Regions from separate parts of the Homo sapiens genome. Here region 1 is linked to region 2. The links come from fine-mapping of genetic effects on gene expression. A gene starts in region 2. The other region holds a variant in brackets. All regions are shown on one strand. Distances are from middle to middle. Region 1 overlaps NHSL2 (NHS like 2). Region 2 holds the start of CITED1 (Cbp/p300 interacting transactivator with Glu/Asp rich carboxy-terminal domain 1).

Evidence for each region.
Region 1: its variant is fine-mapped to the expression of CITED1 in testis (GTEx, PIP 0.94).

What each region holds. Positions count from the first base shown.
Region 1 is chrX:72,132,858-72,143,241 of GRCh38, forward strand. NHSL2 (NHS like 2) reads left to right here. Exons shown (of 8, transcript NM_001013627.3): 3 at 1,234-1,361; 4 at 1,652-1,847; 5 at 4,237-4,368; 6 at 5,584-7,914; 7 at 9,375-9,507. Among named protein-coding and RNA genes, the nearest start is that of RTL5, 6.1 kb to the left of the region's middle. RefSeq lists an enhancer at 9,053-9,102. The variant G/T (reference allele first, on the strand shown) is at 4,024.
Region 2 is chrX:72,301,198-72,311,581 of GRCh38, forward strand. It overlaps CITED1 (Cbp/p300 interacting transactivator with Glu/Asp rich carboxy-terminal domain 1), which reads right to left and starts at 4,717. Exons shown (of 3, transcript NM_001144887.2): 1 at 4,628-4,717; 2 at 1,613-1,737; 3 at 449-1,047. The coding sequence starts at 1,672. The coding sequence ends at 526. LOC105373250 (a long non-coding RNA gene) reads left to right here and starts at 4,905. Exons shown (of 3, transcript XR_938441.2): 1 at 4,905-5,023; 2 at 7,246-7,401. RefSeq lists a silencer at 5,702-5,996 and enhancers at 5,723-5,772, 7,689-8,190, 7,917-7,966.

The DNA.
Region 1 (10,384 bases), 170 kb before region 2:
GTGGATGTTGAGCATGAAAAGAGGTCTTGTCAGCACTCCTTTATCTATACTAATAAAGGTTAACTCTAATGGCGAATAGAAAACTGCTGATGGGCCACCAACAGGATGACAGCCATAACCCCCACCCCCTACCAGGGCAGTGGTGACCTTGGAAAAGCAAGATGCCAAGGGACACCATGAGCCTTGTGTTCAGATAACAAAGGACTTGCCACACAGAAAAAGAGTCGATGTGCTCTGTGTTGCTACCATGGCAGAATTAGGACCAGTGGGTGGAAACCCAGAAGGAGGCACATTCCACCTCCAGATAAGGAAGAACTTTCTGACACACCTGACAGCCCCAACTGTCCGTGGAAGAAATGAGCTGCCTTGGGAGGGAGGGAGCTCCCCTTCCCTGCAGGTGTGTGCGCTGAGGCTGAAGAAACACCTAGAAGGGCTGCTGAGGAGGGAGTCTGGGCACAGAATGAGGCGTTGGACCAAAGAACCCCAAGAGCAACCCCAAATCTCTGTGATTCTGAGTCTTTGTTCAGTGTACATACAGCATGAATGTCCCTTCTCTACTCTCACTTTCTTCATGTATTCTCATCAAATTCATCACTTCAATCAACCCTATTCAAATCTTGTGCATCCTTACTCACTGATGATGCCGCTGAACTTCTGCCTCTTTTATGCTGTTACCTCCTCCTTCCCTCTCCTTCACCTTAGCCCTCCTAGACCTGACATCACTTACAGCGGGACTAAGGTGCAGGGAACACGGCCCACAAAGGCTCAAGTAAAAGTTCTTGACATCCAAGAAAGAACTCCAGATTGGACTTCCTGGTGTAAATCTCTTCTTGCTTCACACAGGTCATTTCCTTGGTAGGGTCGCAGAAAACCTTAAGAGCTGCAGGGCTTCAAAGAGAGGAACTTGCAGTCCAAAGTAGCAAAAGGTGTCTGCATTCTGAGCCTCTTTTCGTAACTGAGCACTCAAGGTGGGGATCATTGAGATAAGGGCTTGGTCCCCAAACCACCACAGCATGAATTTATTGACTTTCTCTTCTCCTCGATCCTCATGGTCCTGGGAAGCAAGCACTTTTCCATTTCCAAATCCAGTGGCTCAAACACCTGGAAATAGCCTAAAGAAAATGCAAGTCAGGCCTGGCAGCTAGAGCAGGAGTCCTGGCTCATGGCCCTTCCCCGGCCCAGCGCTCGGCCATGGCACCCTAGAGTGTGTGTCTCCACTGTGCTATTTTTCAGAAGAATATGAGGAACAGTACTCGGAGGCCAGACTTGTGGGGCAGACCTTCCGCTCTTCTGATGAGGCCACTAAGCCCACCCCCAACCCAAGGCCCCAGTCTGCCAGGCGTCTGGAGTTTATATTGATGGTGAGTTGCCTCATCCCCCACCTGGGAGAGCCAGCATGCACCCACTGACAAGAGACCTCCAGCTGCTTACTTTACCCACTGGAAGCTGCTCAGCCCTGCTCACCAGCAGAGCTACCCTGAGGCCCCACTGGGATAGGCCCTGCACAGCAGGTGCCTGGCCTGGTGGCCTGTCCACGCTTTCCTGCCTCCCAGACGAAGCCTCCAACTACCCAGCCTAAACAGCCACCCTATGGGCACTGGCTCATTGCCAGGCAGGAATACACCCTTTCCATCACCTTCTCTCCCAACAGCCTACAAAACGGCAGCTGAGCGAGGATGAGACTACCACCCAGGGTGTGAGGGCCCCCGAGGCCTCCCTGAGCCTGTCTACCACAGCCGACAAGCAAACTGCCTGGAATAGCCTTTTCCCTCTGCCCATCCTAGAGGAGAAGCGGTGGCCTCAGCTTTGCTCCACGCAGTCTGACATTGTGCCCATCAACATCTCTGGTAGAGTTGCTTAGCACCGCCTTTGTCTTCTTCCCTTCATGCCTCTACAGACCATCCTCTTTGATGCACTGGGTATTGGGGGAGGGAAGTGAGACTTTCTTTGCTACCGGCTCACCTTGCGCTGTCACGGTCATGGCTCTTGCCAGGGAACGGAGGCATGCAGAAGAGGGGGCGCTGGCTGCTCTTTCTTCACCCCCTCCTGGCACTGCCACCCTAACTGAGACCATTTGATAGCAAGCAAAATTTTCTTAACAGAAAGCTCCAAAGCCTTATGAACTTCTGTGCTCTTCAGAGCACTTATGGAAACTTAAAGTTTGTGAGTTCTGTTTGGGTCAGGGCAAGACAACTTCTTGTGCCCAGAGCTGGGTTTGGAGTACACTGATAAGAGTCGGAGCAGGAGAGTGGGGTTTGGAGTGCTGGTGGTAACAAGGGAGGAGTACACCTGGGCACAGACCAAAGGCCTGGTAGCACTTTCACTGGACACTAGTCTTCTAGCAAGGTGGGCTTCTTCAACTTGTTTGGCAAGTTTTCAAGAAAAGAAGTGGTAGAAAGGTCCTAAGGCCAAAAAGACCAAAAGGGGACCCAGTACAATTTTAAGAGTGGGGAACGTGCTGTATTATATGTAGCCCAGCTGGCTGTGGCTCTGGGGGCATGTGGCACACTATACCATGCTCACTATTAATCCATGATCTACACTCCATCAGCTGTAAGGGGAAGAGAAGGAGGGCCAGTCATTTGAGAAGGAGATAGGGCCAGCGACATGATGAAACCATGATCTCAGTAACCTAAAGGGATCAGAGGGGTCCTGTGAGCCAGCGCCAGCCTGTGCTCTGCTGGGAAATGTTGATGAAGATGATGAGGACAGCTCTGGCCACATGTGGCAATGCTCCCTGGATATGGGGTCCTCCACTGTCACTGGCATCATTTCAGAAAATCAGAGGCAGGAAATACAGCCCACAGCCTAGGGAAATATACCAAAAGGAGTGAGGGCTGATGAGGAAAGACTCCAGAAGTGATGTTGAACATTTTGTGTCTAAATGTCTATCTTGGCCAGGCACAGTGGCTCACGCCTGTAATTCCAGCACTTTGGGAGGCTGAGGTGGGTGGATCCTTTGAGCTCAGGAATTCAAGACCAGCTTGGGCAACATGGTGAAACCCCATCTCTACCAAAAATACAAAAAAATAGCCAGGCGTGGTGGCGCACACCTGTGGCCCTAGCTACTCGGGAGGCTGAGATGTGAGGATTGCTTGACCCCAGGAGTCAGAGATTGCAGTGAGCCGAGATCACACCACTGCACTCCAGCCTGGGTGACAGTGAGACTTTGTCTCTAAATAAATAAATAAATGTCTGTCTTCCTCTCAATGAGGCTGTCCCTGAGCATTGCCCACAGAGCCACTTGCTGAGGTGTCTGTGAACGTGTGCAGCTGTGTGGCTGGCTGAATGAGAGAAAGGGAGGGGGAATCACAGACCTCGCCCCACCACCCTGCCTTGCCTTGACTCTGACCCAGCCATTTCCCAGCACCCAAAGACTGACCTAGCACTTTAAGAGAAATACAGCTCTAAAAAATTTTTTTAATAATATTAAGTAAGGCATATTATTGAGGAAATATTCCATTTTAATTGTGTTGAATTTGAAAACATTATCAAGTCAGTAAACAAACTGAATTAACAGATATTTTGAAAGTACCATGTAACTCAGATGAAGTGATAACTATAATCTGTGTCAATAATTTTCCTAAATTGAAAAGCCAGTGCCAGGAAAAAAAGAGAGAGAGAGAAAGAGAAAGAAATAGAGCTCAATCACCATGCTGTGAGCCAGCTTTGGTAAAATGTGACCAGGTGACTGTAGGACAGACTATCAGGCATCTTCCTGGATGGTGGAGGGCAGTAGGGCAGCCTCTTGGAGACACTGGCCTCACCTGGCCCATATAAAGGCCTTCTCTGAGAAAAGATCACAGTCAAGCAGCATCTAGTCCCAGTCCGCTGCTCTACACCAGTGGTTCTCACCCCTGGCTGTACCTCTGAATAATCACTTGAAGACTTCTAGAAAATGCTTCTACCTGAGCCCTACTCCCAGAGATTTCAGTGTTCTGGGGTAAGGTCCAGGTGTTGCAGTTTCAAAAGCTGCCCAGTTGAGTTTAATATGTAGCCCAGGGTTGAAAACCACTGCCCCAG[G/T]CCACCTAAAACTTACAGGCAACCTGGGTGCAGCCTGGGAAACCCAGCATGCATTCCCAGGGCCAAGTTGGGAAGGATGAGGAAGAAGTGCCACCTGCCTTGGATGCTATTCATGCTTATCACGACTGCCATCATTCTCTTCTCTCAGGCCAATTTCCACCGTGCTTTAAACAGAAACCAGGATGCACCCAAGTGTCTTTATTTTGGCTACAGGGCAGCAGTTTGATAAACATGCAAGTTTGCGACACTCGTTGTTTAACACAGAGACAGCCGTGAACCCCAAGTCCACCCTGAGGCGGAGGCGGACCATTATTGGATTCTCTAACTTTTCCCAGCGAGACCAAGGTGACCCCACCACAGCTGATTCCCCAGTCCCTTCCCCTTACCCACTCCTGCCAATCCTGCCACCCAGGTGGTACTGTGGTGATGGGGAACAGGAATAATTGGGTGGAGGAGGGGGCCTCCGGATGTCCTGAAAAAGCCAATATGGTAATTAAGAATAGCTAAGGGCCTCTTGTCAAGGGTGGCAACTGAATATGGAGAGTAGGTCTTCCGGGCTAATGAATCCATTACATTATTGTTTCCCATTATAAATGTAATACAACCAGATATGCCAAATTTAGGCAAATAGATGAAGAGAGAGGGTTCCTCACCATCATCTTAACAGAACCATTACTACCATTAAGTGAATGCTGGCCAGGAGCACAGACCAGGGAGATAGCAGAGGGTAAGAGCCCTGGTCTTTCCGCTTACTAACCAGGAGACCTTGGCCAAGTGACATAACCTCTCTGAGCCTCAGCTTCTTCATCTATAAAGTGGGGATAATGATACTGACATGGTGGAATTAGCATGAAGATTAGCGTTATTGTATGTAACTTGCCTACCATGTGCCTGGTACATAGTCAGTGTCCAATAAATGGTGGCTATTGTTACAAATTCTCATAGCAGTAGTAGTTATAATAATAATAATAATGACATGACAGTATTAATTGTTTGTGTGTATGAGAAAACCTTTGGGGATTTGGAACATCCAAACGGTTTCCTCACATCCGTAGATTATCCTCAGCCTCTTATGTTGCAAAGCCTAAAAGTGATGGGTGCGAACAATGCAACCAGACTCTTAGCTTTGCATCTTGGGCATGCTCCAGAGTCATTGCTGGAGCCAAACGTCACACCATGCCGTCCTTAGTTCGGAAGCCTCTACTCTCATCTCTAGATGGATGAATGCTGAGGTCTGTGATGGTTTCATGAGCCTGGGGTGAAAGTATGGGGAAAATGCAAGGTAATCCCACGTGACACTTCAGCTCTAAGAGGAATAATCAAAGCTGGAAAGTATTTGGCAGCCATCTGGACCATTCAAGGGCACCGTATGTCTCACTGTGGGGTGATGGGCAAGGACCCAATTTCCCCAGCATCTTCATCCATGGAAGGGAAGAACCAAGGAATTCTGACCAAGCTGTTGGCAAATGCTTCTTGGCAAAAAGTTGGTGCTCCTGTCTCAAAACAGCTGGTGGGAGATCCCTTGCTGTAGCACTCATGTCCTGTGTTTATTTCCTCCAGGTCACAGCAACAGCCCAGCAGGCAGTGTGGCCCACTCTACCACCTCCGACATCAGGCCCAGTCACTCAGTTCCAGAAGGGGTTCATGGAAGAGTTGCAGTTGGTCAGGATGCTCGGTTCCCAAGTCTCACCTCGCCAGTACTGAGAACTCCTTCCAGTGAGCCGGACGAACCTCACCAGGCACGGAGTGGCCCAAACCCTCCTGGCATGGAGAGCATGGGAATGGTGTACAGTGTCCCCAGTTCTTGCAATGGACCTACAGAATCAACCTTCTCCACTTCCTGGAAGGGAGATGCTTTTACCTACATGACTCCAAGTGCCACCAGCCAGAGCAATCAAGTCAATGAAAATGGGAAAAATCCTTCCTGTGGGAATTCTTGGGTCTCTCTAAACAAAGTCCCACCTCTGGTTCCTAAGGAGGCTGCTACCCTCCTTGTCGCTCGTGATAACCCAGCAGGATGCAGTGGGTCAGCTGGCTACCCTGAGCGCCTTATTCAGCAAAGGCACATGCCCGAAAGACCCTCCAAGATTGGCCTTCTGACCAGTGGGACCTCGAGGCTGGAGACAGGCCCCGGTGGGGCCAGCAGATTCCGGGAGCGGTCACTGTCTGTGCCCACAGACTCAGGCACCACAGATGTGGACTATGATGAGGAGCAGAAGGCCAATGAGGCCTGTGCCCTGCCTTTTGCCAGTACGAGCTCTGAGGGCAGTAACAGTGCTGACAACATTGCCTCCCTTAGTGCCCAGCAAGAGGCCCAGCACAGAAGGCAGAGGTCCAAGAGTATCTCACTTAGGAAGGCCAAAAAGAAGCCTTCCCCACCCACACGCAGTGTCTCACTGGTCAAAGATGAGCCAGGCCTCTTGCCTGAAGGTGGGTCAGCACTACCCAAGGACCAGAGGCCCAAGAGCCTTTGCCTCTCCTTGGAACATCAAGGACATCACTCGTCCCACCCAGATGCTCAGGGTCACCCAGCTATTCCAAACCACAAAGATCCAGAAAGTACACAATTCTCCCACCACTGGTATCTTACTGACTGGAAGTCTGGTGACACCTACCAATCCCTGTCCAGCTCCAGCACTGCCACTGGCACCACAGTCATTGAGTGCACCCAAGTTCAGGGCAGCTCAGAGTCTCTTGCCTCACCTTCCACCTCCAGAGCCACTACACCTTCCCAACTCTCCATTGAAGTGGAGGCCAGGGAGATATCATCCCCGGGAAGGCCCCCTGGACTGATGTCACCCTCCAGTGGCTACTCCAGCCAGTCGGAAACACCAACACCCACTGTTTCCATGTCCCTGACCCTGGGCCACTTACCCCCTCCAAGCAGCAGTGTCCGGGTACGTCCAGTGGTACCTGAGAGGAAGTCATCACTACCCCCGACGTCACCAATGGAGAAATTTCCCAAGTCACGGCTATCATTTGACCTACCACTGACCTCTTCACCCAACCTGGATCTGTCTGGGATGAGTATCTCCATCCGAAGCAAAACTAAGGTGAGTCGGCACCACTCAGAGACAAATTTTGGCGTCAAGCTGGCCCAGAAAACTAATCCCAACCAGCCAATCATGCCTATGGTTACTCAGTCCGACCTACGTTCTGTTCGCCTGAGGTCGGTCAGCAAGTCTGAGCCGGAAGATGATATTGAGAGCCCTGAGTATGCCGAGGAACCCAGAGCAGAAGAAGTCTTCACCTTGCCAGAGAGAAAGACAAAACCTCCCGTAGCTGAGAAGCCTCCGGTGGCCCGGAGGCCTCCAAGCTTGGTCCACAAGCCACCATCTGTTCCTGAGGAGTATGCACTAACTTCACCAACCTTGGCTATGCCCCCCAGGAGCTCAATTCAACATGCGAGACCACTCCCTCAAGACAGCTACACGGTAGTGCGGAAACCAAAGCCCTCCAGCTTCCCAGATGGCAGAAGCCCAGGGGAGTCAACAGCACCCTCATCTCTTGTTTTCACGCCTTTTGCCAGTTCCTCTGATGCTTTCTTCTCAGGAACACAGCAGCCTCCCCAGGGAAGTGTAGAGGACGAGGGCCCCAAGGTGAGGGTTCTGCCTGAAAGAATTAGCCTCCAGAGCCAGGAAGAAGCTGAGAAAAAGAAAGGCAAGATTCCACCTCCCGTACCAAAAAAACCCAGCGTGCTGTACCTGCCTCTCACTTCTCCCACAGCTCAAATGGAGGCCTATGTGGCAGAACCAAGGCTGCCTCTCAGCCCCATCATCACCCTGGAGGAAGACACCAAGTGTCCCGCCACCGGCGATGACCTGCAATCACTTGGTCAAAGGGTGACTTCAACTCCTCAGGCTGACAGTGAAAGGGAGGCAAGCCCTCTGGGTTAGTAAACTGTCTGCTGGCTTTTTCCTTCAGTCACAGGAGAGATGAGGGTGAGAATGGAGTGCCAGAGATGGAAGCAGATGCCCCAGAATAATTATCCTGATCCCAAGTCAGTAGCGGGCACCCTTTGAGGGTTTGAGTTACTCTAAATAGGAACCACGGGCTGGCCTTACTGCCCTTGAGATCAAGACTAGCCCGAGGCAGATCTCCAAGGCCCAGTTTAGGCCACTCTCCCCTCTAAATCTCTAGTGCTGAGATAATGAAATCAAACTAGGTTCTAGCACCCTAGGACTTCAGCATCCCACATCCCTAGCCAAGCATGCATCCTGTCTTGGGAACTACTCCACCTCACTGTACAGTACTTTTCATTGGCTGCAGTGAATTTAGTTCCCTACATGGGACCCAGTACCCCACCAGACTGAGTTCAAGTGCCATGGCAGGCTCGGAGCCATCTGAAACAACGGAATATGTTGCCACCAGCAGCCTCTTTTTGTGCCTTCCGGAGGAAAGGGAGCTCACTTTCTTGGGTGGTTTGAGTTCTTTGGCTCTTCCTGGAACCATAAACATAATACATAATGCTTCTCATCCTTTCTTTTTCTGTCTCTTTTTGTTTTAATTGTGGTAAAGTACCCATAACATTTACCATCTTGACCATTTTTAAGTGTGCAGTTCATTCGTGTTAAGCACATTCACATTGTTAAGCAACCAATCTCCCGAACTCCTTTCATCTTGCAAAACTGAAACTCTGTACCCAGTAAACAACAACTCCTCCTTCTCCCTCCCCGCAGATTCCTCCCTCCAACCACCATTCTACTTTCTGTCTCTATGAATTTGACTCTAGACACCTCATATAAGTGGAATCATACAGTATTTGTCTTTTTGTGACTGGCTTATTCCACTAAGCTTAATGTTGTCAGGGTTCATCCATGTTTCTCATTCTTTTCTGAACCCTTAACACCAAAAATCAAAATCTCATGGCCTTCTATATGCAAATTTGGACTTTCAATATGAGTCAATTATGACTAAGTCAAGTAAATAAATCAAAGCCCCAGGTAGTTGTAGAAAACACTTCCTCAGACTCCACAGGCTCCCCTCTGAGATTCAAATAGGTTCCACTCTCACCCACTGGGTGGGAGTCACTAGTTTAGATCACTCCCAGCTCCTTCATTTGGAGAAATGATATACAGTGTTTAAAACAAGAGAATGCTCGGGCCACCTGTTATAATGACAAAGACATGACAGAATAGGGACCCACGCTGATCTTCACCACTCACTCCACCTTGGGCAAATCATTAAGCTTCTGAACTTCATATTCCTCCTCTGCAAAATGGAGGTATTAAAAATCTCCACCCTGCTGCCCTCACAGAGTTGCTTTCACCATCAAATGAAATAACATATGAGAATGTGCTTTGTCCTATCTACTGTGGTCAAAGTCATTCCTTTTGGTTTTTTATGTCTAGGGAGTTCTGTGGAACCAGGCACCGAAGAAAAAAGTTTAATCAGTGATAAAACAGCTGAATGGATTGCAGAGGATGATGATGACGTGTTTGTGGCTTCACGCACAACTGAAGATTTATTTACTGTGATACACAGGTCTGCACCAATTTCCTTAATTCTAATTGCAATTGCCTTCCCTTTTTGTACTTAAAGAAAACCTGCTATTCCACATTGAAATCCTAATTGTAAAAGAAAAAGAAAAAAATTAAAAATAAGAAAAACTGCTACCTTTAAGCAGCCATTAGAATTGCACCTGGAGGCTAAGTTCAGATACCCACATATGTGAGCGCAGTCCAGGGCCTCGCATCTCAAATTCACTGACATCGTTGGGTAAAGTGGAGGAAGGGAGGGGAGAGGAGGACCAGGTGCCGAGTGAGAGGCCCCTCGTCTCCTAGCAACCACTTGGCCTATTGTGGCTCCATCTGCTCTCTCTTAGCTCTGTCTATAGTCAGAGACATTTAACCCTTCACAGAATTCCTTGTATCAAAAAAATCCCATCAAGAGTTGAAGTGGGGCACCAGGCAGCATATCAAAACAGGAACTTAGGAAAAGAGGAACCAGATGGGGACCAGTTATTGGACAGGGTTACAAGGCAGGGGTTCAGTGACAAGAAAACTGGGAAGAGTTTATTATTGGAGCTAGACCACCAGTCCAGAACAGGATCAGTCCCCAGGCTGTCCTGATTCAGAGTCACTGAGCTACTAGCCTTGACTCCTGAAATTCGTCCTTGGTCCCAGAACCTGGGCAGGACTGAGGCTACAGGCACAGGACAAGTGACTCCAGCTGGGGGCATTGAAAGGAATATGGGGACGGGAGGGCCCAACAAGGGACTCTGAGGATTTAGAGGTGAGAGAGAGAGAAAGCAGGTCAATACGGCTGCTTGCAGGGCTGCCGCCTGGATTGTGTCACAGGCATGGGGGTCTGTGAAGCACTGGTAAATGTCTGCTGCATTAACTCACTCAGACCAAACTTT
Region 2 (10,384 bases):
ACATGGGCAAGAGGGCAAAGGAAAGGCCTTAATGGGTCAGTTGGATTGGGGCTAGAGAGTGGGTGGGGGTGGCTTTTACAGTTGGTGAAGTGTGTGCCACGTGGCCAGGAATGTGCCTTTAGACTTGGATGTGCATGTAGCAAGGAGGCTGCACAAAGGTCTGATCAGTCTCTCTTCCAAGAAAGCCCCCAACCAGCCCCTGTATGCCATGGTGTTCCTGGAGTCTTAGGGCAATGAGACCAGGTACTCCTGAGGAGATAGCCACAGTGGTGCTGGCAGCAGGAATTCAGTGAACAGCCCCCTTCACCCTCCCTTCTCCTTCCATCCCATCCAGCTCCTTCCCAGCTAGCCACTCACAACCCCGCCATGGGCCTCAGAATTGCTAAAGGGACATCAGACCATACTACACATCATTAGATCTCAATGAAGAACACCTCTAGTTGGCCCGTCTCTTTGTAAGTAACTTTATTTTTATTTACAACAGAATTGGTGGCTTTATTCCTCCATCTTTAGGGACACTTGGCATTAGCAGCTAGATGGAAAGTCCGCAGTGAAGTCAAACTCATTCTGCCCCAGCCACAGCTCCGGAAGCTCATTGGCTCGGTCCAACCCCAGTTCCACCACCAGCGACATCAGCACTTCCTCATCCACTGGGTCCGAATCGATGATAGCAGGGCTCTGGGCACCAGCAGAAGGAGAGAGTGATTCTGCCCCTCCCGCCTGGGCCCCAAAGTCCCAGTTTTGCAGGGGTCCTGCCTCCCCGGGTTGGCCTGGAGTGGCAGCAGCCATCCCCTGATACTGGCTATTAAGTTTCTGCAGGTGCATACTAGCCAGCAAGTGAGGGGCGGGGTGCAGGTTGAAGGATGGGGGTTTAGTGGGAGGGGTGGTTGTAGGAGAGCCTATTGGAGATCCCGAGGAACTAGTGGGAGCCCCACTGGCCTTGGTTCCATTTGAGGCTACCCCAGGGTAGTGCAGAATGGCCACTGCTTTGCGATCTTTCACCGCAAGGTTGGAGTAGGCCACGGAGCTCATCTCTTGGTTGGCATCCTAGAAGACAGAGAAAAGCACACCATAGTAACCCTGCTCCTGGCTTGTCCTTCACCATTCAGCAGATTTAGAAGGTTCCTACCTGCACTTCATTTGGGACTAGAGGTGGAGAGGTAGCAAGACGACCCCCTTGAAAATTAGGCTCCCACCTCAAGCATCCTTTTGCTGCCATGGCTCTGAGCACTGAGGCCAGAGCCCAGTTACAGTGCTGGAGCACCTGCCATCCTAAGTGGGTTCACTGCTTTCAGCTCCTTCCCCATAGCCTCCACCTCACCATCCTAAAAAGGGCACCTCCTGTCCCTCTTCTCAGCCTCACTTTAGTCTCTTCAACAGAGTGGTTTTGCTCCTACTCAATTTCTCTGCTCCCTTCCCTGCCATCTTTCAACACCCCTAGTGGGTTCAATCTGACCACAATTTAGGCAGAAGCTGTTCTCATTCTCCCCAGAGATAGTCCTGTTGTCTCCTCTCTGCTCAAGGACACTGGGTAATGCACCTAGGAGGGCCTGGCCCATGACCCCGGAAAATTTGTCTTTCCCTGCCTCATCTGTAAAATGGCAAAAATTACCTCCTTCGCAGGTGAGGTGCCACCCTTGACATCAAGTGCAGGCCTCGACGTTGTTGGCATTTCAGAGCCTTGGCAGAAGTTGGATAAATTGGCGGGAAGTGATGCTGCCAGCTGGAGCTGTTGTGCTGCAAGTGAGGAAGAAGCAGTGGTAAGGGCAAAAGGCTTCACTGACCAACAAAGCACTAGCAAAGCCCAAAGCAGGGCAATGCCACGCAGCTATGAGGCAAGGATGGTGACTGAGTTAGAATCAAGACCAGAGATCACCCGAGCACAGGGAGGAGATCAAGCTGGAACTTTTGCCTGAGGCAGGAAAGGTGCTTGATTCGGCCAGGTACTGCCCAGGCAGCCACCTACCCATATCACCAAGATGGGACATACTGCTTCCTCATGCAAGTGACTTCACAGTCCCAAGGTGTATGTGTGGGGGTGAGGGTGGCACTGTTCCTGGTTCAGAGGACAGGAATGTCCCTGAGTAAGCAACATATTGTCTCAATGGGCTACTAGCATCCAGGCTGGAGAGTTGGGGCCTCCACTGGGACTGGGAGAATGTGAGAAGAAGTCAGGGCAAGGAAGACCTAGAAAGCTAGAGGCTGCAGCACAGGGAAATAACAAGTCTCTAGCGCAAATGTCATGGAGCTCCAAAGCATGACCTTGGGCATGCCTGTGAGAAGCCAGGCTGATTAGGGTGGTCTGGGGGCTCTGAGGCAGCTGGAGCCAGAGAAGCTAGGAATGTGTCACTTTCCTCCATGTCTCAAGCCCCCTCCAAGACAGCCCCAGCATTGGGCTTTCCTAGGATGCCTACCCCAGAAACCTGAGTCCAGCCATTCCCATCTATAGTGACAAGTGAGGCACAGAGATTCAATGCCTTTTTAGTCAGGTAGCAGCGGTTCTGGGAGCAGAATCTAGCACCCCTATGGCCACATGCCTCACCTGACCACTGGCTAAGTCATCATACCTAGCTGGATTCAAAAGGCTTCCAAAGAAGTGATTTCCTGGCTCAAGTGCCAAAGGATAAGGGAATGAAGGCAAAAGAATACCTCCAAACCAGAAAATAAACAAACCTCTGAAAATCTCAACTTATTTTCCTGGAGGCCTGTTTACAAAGAAGAAAAAAATGTCCCATAGCTAGGCACAGTAGCACCCTCCTGTAGTCTCAGCTACTCAGGAAGCTGAGGTGGGAGGATCACCTGAGCCCTGGAGTTTGATACCAGGCTGGGCAACATAGCGGGACCCTATCTCTTTAAAAAAAAAAAGCCCCATATATTCTAGCTTTCATGATCAATTAGAGATGTAGAATTTCATATTTATAAATACCTCTTGGTCCAAAGAATCTTGAGGACCTTAAAAAGAGTCTCTAATCTTTCCAAGGAGGCTAGAATTCTCCGTGACACTCTCCACTCCGCAGCGGTCATTAAGAATCTGCTCAGACACTTCTAGAAAGTGGCCACTTACTACCTCTCTGTATCATCTTTGCATTGCTTACTTGGGTGGATGGGGGTAGGGGAGGGAAAAAATAGAGAAAGGGGTAAACATTTTTTTAAAAACATGAGGAAAAAATATCAGCTGTTGGGTCCCGCATCATTGCTTGATTGAAGCCCTGCTCCTTCTCTGAGGCAACCGTAGAAAAATATTTCAAAAGCAAGTGATCACCAGACAAGAAGTCTAACACATGTCGTCTTCAAGAGCCCTAGCACAATCAGTATCAGACAATTTTCCTGTCCTAAGAAAAATGTCTGGGGGCCCTGTCCATCTTTTCCTGTTCCTATCCAGCCTTCCCTCTCCTTTTTGCCGCTTGGTACCCGAATGTACAAAACGAAGAAAAAACAACAGGAGCAGCAGCAACAACAGCAAAACCAAAAGAGAAACATTAGAAAAATCAAAAGAGAGAACGAGCAAAAAAACTCTCTCTATTCTGATATCAGTTCGTGGGGGAAGACCATTTTACCGCGCCTCCCTCTTCAATCTGGGAGCTCCCCCAGAAGAGGCCCTGTGTCCATTCAGATCTTCTGCCTTCCATTACTGACCCACCACCCACCCTGACCCCAGCCTGGGTCTGCGCTCAATAGGCGCTCAGTAAGTGTTGTTGAATGCGTCTGAAGAAGCAATCGCATTTCCATCGGCATCCCTGGCTCTGCTTCCCCGGCTTTCTGCCCTCCTCCACCACCCTCTAGCCCGTTCGTGGGCAAAACTTGGCAACGCGGAAACGTCCCAGCCCGCTCTCCAAGCCGCGAGCTGACCACTGCGAAACGGCTGCGACAGGCGGCTGGGAAACCTAGAGCAACAAGTGCCTTCTCGCCGGCTGATGCCTGGCGGCCCCCCGGCCACCAGTTCCCAGTCCCGCTGCCCGCTCTTCGCTTCAGGCCTTCCCTTGGGCGAGCAGCCCCCTCCCGCCTAGACAGGGGTGGGAAGGGGAGAGGGAAAAGAGAAGGGAGAGGCAGGTGGGGGCCTCATCTTTAACCTGTTGGGGGACCAAAAGTTAAAATGGCACCAACCGGATGGTTCCATCTCGATTGCTATTTTCTCACTCAGAAGGAGAAATTTAAAAATCCAAACAGCACTGCGGCTTGGCTTGGACGCGCTCTAACCAGACCAGTCAGTTTCGCCACCTGAAAACTAAAGGCCCGTTGTTTGCGGACAGCTCGGCTGCCCTCCTCGCCGCATCCCAGATGGAGCCGCGGAACCGGGGGCGGCCGGGAGCATCCCTTGCACGGCGGGCGCGTGCACCCAGGCCACCGGGGCCCTGAGCGTCCGTTCCCGCAAGTGCTGTATCAGGAACTGATCTTAGAGACAGGATGGACAGGCAGGAAGGGGCACGGGGTGTCGGCCTCCGCGGCGAGTCCGCACTCCGGCGCCGGCTGCTGCCACTCTCGCGCCTGATCAACACTTACTGAGCGCCCGCTGAGCATCCGACGCGGCAGCAGGCTGAGCCTACCCCCTAGCCAAGCCGCCTGCGGTCAGTGCTAAAACCCCGCTAGGAGAAGAGTGAGAGAGGCTCGGAGAGGTGCGGTAACTTGCCCAAGGTCACAGCGCTAGAAAGTGGCGGAGCCGGGATTCGCAGCCAGGTCTCTCTGACTCCAAGTCCGGTGCTCTGCGAAGCAGGGACTCGGCGCGCGGCTCGCCAGCCCGCGTTTATAGGGAGAGGGGTGTGCGCGTGGGTGTGTGTGTGTGGGCGTGTGTCGGGGGAGGGGAGGGCTGAGGTCGACTGGGCAGTAGAGGCAAGTTGCCCAAATTCGCTAACTTCCATCCCGCAATTCCGCTGAACTCGGCCCGAAAAGCCCCCTCTTGCCTCAATTCCCCGAAGTAAATCTGAGCTTTGTGCAGCTCCGGAGCCAGAGCGTCCAGATGCGGTCCGGGAGATTAGCAAAGTCGGTGGAAGCCAAGCTGGAGAAAGCGCGGGCGCAGGGAGAAAAGGTGCTGCCGTCTCCCCGGGAGAAGCGGGCACCCGGCCCCGCTGGCCGGCAGGGGGGCGCGCTGGCAAGCGAACCCGAGCGCTGGCGGGCGGGCGGGCGGGCGGCCCCTCGCCCCCAGCAGAGCAGCTTTCCAACAGAAAGCAAGTCTCCCCAGAACCCTCCGGCCCGCCTGGCGGCCGCCCACTCCCCATACCCGCTCCACGGGAGTCCTCGGCCCCGCCGCCCAGCCCGGCGCCCAGCCCGGCGGCCCGGCTTACCTCTGAGAAGCCGCCTGCCCTGGAGAGAGGGAAGCGCGGAGCTCGGTGAGCCGCAAGAGAGGCGGCGGAGCCCCCAGCCCCTGGCACGCACGCCGCCGCCACCGCTACCGCGAACCGGTCGCGCTCAGCGCCCGCGGCCGCGCCGTTGGCCACCCGACCCCGGGGCGCCTGGGAAAAGCCCGCACCGCGCCGCGCCGCCGCTGCACCGCACAGTGCCGCGCCAAGCAGCCCCTGACCGAGCTGGTGCCCGCCCGCCCGCCCGCAGCTTCGGCGCCGGACTCCGGGGCGGTGGCGGTGGCGGCCACCGCGCTCCCTTCCCGGCGCTGGGGACCCGGCTCTCAAGCCCCCATTGCCGCCCGGAGAGCCCTGACGCACACGCACACGGCAGCAGACTGGCCTCGGCTAGGAATCCCAGGAAGGACAGACCCTTTTTTTCCCTTTTTTTTTCTCCCCTCAATTTCCACGTCTTTATAACCGGCTTAGGGCATTATTAGCACATGTCCTGGCTCGTGGGCGAGTTGGTGGCAAAATCTGAACTGGATACTCACGGAGGGCCCGCGCGGGTGCTGTGCCGTCCGCTGCTCTCTTCCTCCTCACCGAGAACTGCCCCTCGCCGGCGGACTACAAGAGGGCAGCCGGGCAGAGCGAGCTTCCTCTCGGCAGCTCAGCGGTGCCCCTTCTGCAGCTTTGCCGCCGGGCACATTTTTATAGCAGCGGCTGGCGTCTGTGGCCCTTTAAAGGCGCTCGAGCTGGTGCAGTCACCGCGGATCGTGTGAAAGCAAAGGGCCGGCTGGGGAACGGAGTCCACGCGGCCACGCGAGTCCGGCAGCCCTGTGGACCGGCCAAGGCTCCCGGGGTGGGGCTGGCGAGTCCGGGCTATGGGCAGCCCTCGCCCGGAGCCCTGGCCAGTGCCCGGCTTCTAAAGCTGTCGGGGGCCAGGGCCCGGGACACCGGCTCTCCCCACCGCCCTGCGTGGACTTGCCCAATAAATTCCACTTAGTAATTTCACTGAGGCAAAGGAGAGCCGTTAGTGTCTGTTTTCTGACCTAAATCTAGTCGGGGGCCAAAACGGGCTTCAGGGGTTTTGGGAGAGAGCTGTGGGCTCAAGGAGTGACCTGGAAGAGCGGGGCGCACACGAGACGGGGGAATGGTCATTAGTTTTCTGCAGGGCTGTCTTGGAGCCTGTCTGCCTTTTGGGGGGGCTGTACTATCTCATTCGTTGAAGAGCTGAGGCTGGGGGCTCCTTTTCCTCTTAAAGTCGCCAGATTCTGGGCAGAGTCGCATGGGGGGCCTATATGGCAGCGGTGGCTCTTCTAGAAGTTCTGAGCTGGGGTTGGGTTCGAGGGTTTCTGTTCTGTGGTCATCCAGGGCAGGAGGCTGGCAGGATGCGACCCGGAGAAATGCTACTCTCCCGGACCGTGGGGCCAGGTACAGCTCACTAGGCTCGCCGAAAAGCCAACAGTAGGCAACGGGGTACGAAGAGCTTGCCCCAGGGTTCGCGGAGATTCCTCCTGCCTTCCCACGATGTCAGGTTGTTTTATTGTAACTACATAATCATTCCCGTCTAGCAAGAATAACGTTTTGCATTTGGAGTTCGTCTTTCTTAGGTAGAGATGTTGTCTTACAAATCCTTACTGGAAAGAGGTCTGGGTCTTCTCCTTCACCTCAATTCGGATTCTTTGTGGCCAAGAAATTCCCACCTTACCACTTACAGGGAGGCCATCGGGATTACCCCTCTGTCACCCCCCCACCCCGCCCCGGCCCCGCCGCTCTTTTTTTGCTGCCTTTCAGCAACAGCGACTCAGTTTACACTGTTTATAAAACATACTCTTTAAGAAAAGGTCCTGATGTTAAAAAAGGGGGGGAGGGAATGTCACGAAGTCATTTTCACTATGTATGTGTTCTGTCTTCTTAATTGGATTTGAAGACCTGAAGTTCTCTTTTTCTTTTCTTTTTCTTTTTTTAGTAGCCCCAAGTGCCCTGCATTTGCTCTTCTAACAAAGTTCTGTTTGTTGACGGACTGACCGGCTTACCGACACAAAGATGGGAAGCAAATGGAGAGACGGATCAAGGCCCTTCCTCGGCATCTGGAGGAAGCTTGGGCGAGTGTCTTGGTCGCCAGGTAAACCCATTCTCCAGCCCTCAAGGCTGCCTTGCACAGCTCCAGTCTTTTCACTTACCCTGTCCCAACACAAACCCCGGTAGCATCCACACCCCACACATCTTCGCTGCACTTTCTCACTTTGCTTGCCAGATTGTGGGCCCTGCCTAGTCTCCCTCTGATAAAAGGCGGGATCTGTCGGCACCCTAAAGCCTTACTGCAAACCGCGTGTGAAATACACTCTCAAGTTCTCTTGGTGTTTGCCTGGGATGAAAAAAAATGTTTCTGCGAAAACTAAGTGGTGGAGAATGAGCGACTCTAGGCTTTCGAATTGCATGTTACTAATTTGAACCCCTGACCCACCCTCCCCGTCAGCCCCGGCTTGGCTCGGGAGCAGGTCTGGCAACAGCGGCAGCTTCTCCGCTGCAGGCTCCGGATCCGGGAGGTGTGGATCCGCCCTCCATCTATTGGATGGCTCCCAGGCCAATTGTTAGAAAGAGGCATATGTTCATCTCGGCTTCTGGAGTGTCTCCGGAGCAGTTGCTCAACAGCCAGCCCCCTCCCCCATCCGGACCATTGAAGGGCAGAAAAAGGAGCGCCCTCCACCACATTTCTCTGTGCCCACATGCCAGAAAGGGTCTCCCCCCTGGTGACTTCCTGTCATCTCCACTGCTTACCTCCTGGGGAGCAGGAACGAGAGGGGCTTCAAGCACTCAGCTTTGAAGCACAAAAGCCACCCCTTTCCTTTTTGGGGAGATGGGAGAGGAGGTTAGTTGCAGAGGCTGAGAGGGAGCAAAGGAGACATTTGCATTTCTCGGCAAAAATGCTCTGATCACTGACTTCCCCGTTGGCTCCAGCAGAGCTCAGAGCTCTCCGCTGAACTCTTATCTCCAACTTGGCAACTAGACCGCGAGCTTGCGAAGCAAGGAGAGGACAGGGATGGTCACCTACCGAGAACCTCTGTGCTCCAGCGCTGGGCCTGGCATGTTCCCCATCCATCATCTCATTTAATTCCCAGGACAGCCCTTTGAGGTAGGGTTTACCAAAGGTGAATGAAACAGAGCCTCGGGAAATTGCCCAAGTTCACATAGCCACGTGGCTGAGTGTTTGAATCTGGATCAGGCTGTCTGCAAAGTTTTTACCCTCAGCCCTAATCCCCGCTGCCTAGGAGGGTAAGGAGGCTGTCTAGAGTGCAGGTTCAGGGGTCAGTAGGCCTGGGTTTAAATTCCTACTTTGCCATTTGTTAGCGGTGAAGTCTTAGGCCAATGGCTTCATGCTTTGGTCTTCAATTTTCCCATCTGTTAAATGGGGATAACAATGGTACCTAATCTGTGGGGGTTGCTTAGCCTGATTGGTGCCCGCAGTGTAGTAAATGGCCAATAAATGCTGTTATCGTACTGGACCTTCTGATTATTTTCCTTTTGCCTCCCGTCCCTGCCTCAGCTCACACACTTCAGATTCAGTAATACTTGCTGAATGATTAATTTTAAAACCAGACTGAGAGGGGATGAAGGAGGTCTATAAACTCAGGGAGGAGAGAGAGAGAGAAAAATGCAGATTTCTTCTTAAAATCCCACCCTCCAGAACCAAGGACTGCCTGAGCCATATGACAGGAGTAAATTTGGGACCAAAAAAAGGTGACCACTTTTTACAGGTCAGCCTATAAACTTACAGAGTGGTCTCCAGAAACATATACTCAATACGTGTGTAGAAAAAACTTTAAAAGCACAAGTTTTTATTCAAGAATATTTACAGCAGAATTGTTGATAATAGTGGAAAATGAAAAGGAACCTAAATGTCTATGGTAAGGGTGTGTCCCTTGGTACCTTGACACACACACACACACACACACACACACACACACAATCCTGACTTTGAAAACTCTTATTCATAGGAAAATATTCATAACAAAATATGAAATAAAAAATGCTGGGTACAAAGTTGCATAAATATGATGCCAAGCTGCAAAGGGCACAAAGGGAACAAAATTAAATACTCACTATGTTTCCAATCATGTATGAATATGTACAGAAAGCGACAGTCTGGAAAATACCAAAATGATAACAGTGCCAGTAGAGTGGTAGGATTATGAGTGATTTTCTTCTCTTTTCCCCATATTATGCAATATTATTCTTATAAGTAAATATGAGTTTATAGTTAATAAACTCCATAAATATTATGTTCCCACTTTTGTTAAAATATATGTGCATAGAAAAAATATCCATAATCTCACTACTCAATTATAATCACTGTTAACACCAAAAATTGTTAACGGTGATTATAATTGAGTAGTGGGATTATGGATAATATTTTTATTTTGCTTTTCTTTTTCTGCAGTATGATTATATTACTTTCTTACAATTAAAACAGATTCATAATTTGAAAAGTACATAATCAGAGGGATCCCACTTGGGTTAAGAGTATGAATGTAAATTGAAAAAAATGAGAAGGAAGAATACTAAAATATTAAGAGTTTTATATTAGGTGGTAAGGAATTATGGGTAATTTCCTCTCTATTTTCTGTAATCTGCTTTTATTATTTTTACAATTAAAATAAAATGTACCTAAAAATAACATATACAATATGATCCCACTTTTGTTAAAAACGAATATGTATATAGAAAAAAATAATAAACTACTCCAAAATGTAGTAGTCTCTGGGTGGTGAGTTTATTAGTGATTTTTGTTTTCTCTTTCATACATGATTTCTTCATATGCCAAATTTTCTACAGTCATCATGTATTAATTTTTTTAAAAAGTGTAAAGTACTTCGGTAATGAAGTTTTTATGGAAAAAAGAGCATGTCTGGGATTTGCTTTAAAACATTCCAGTTGAGGGTGGGGGGAAAGTGGACAGGGGATATAGATTAAATAAGATGATAATTGTTGAAGATGGCTTCATTATAATGTGTTTTTGTTTATTTGTTTGTTTGTTTTGAGACAGGGTCTCACTCTGGCACCCAGGCTGGAGTGTAGAGGCGCGATCTTGGCTCACTGCCACCTCC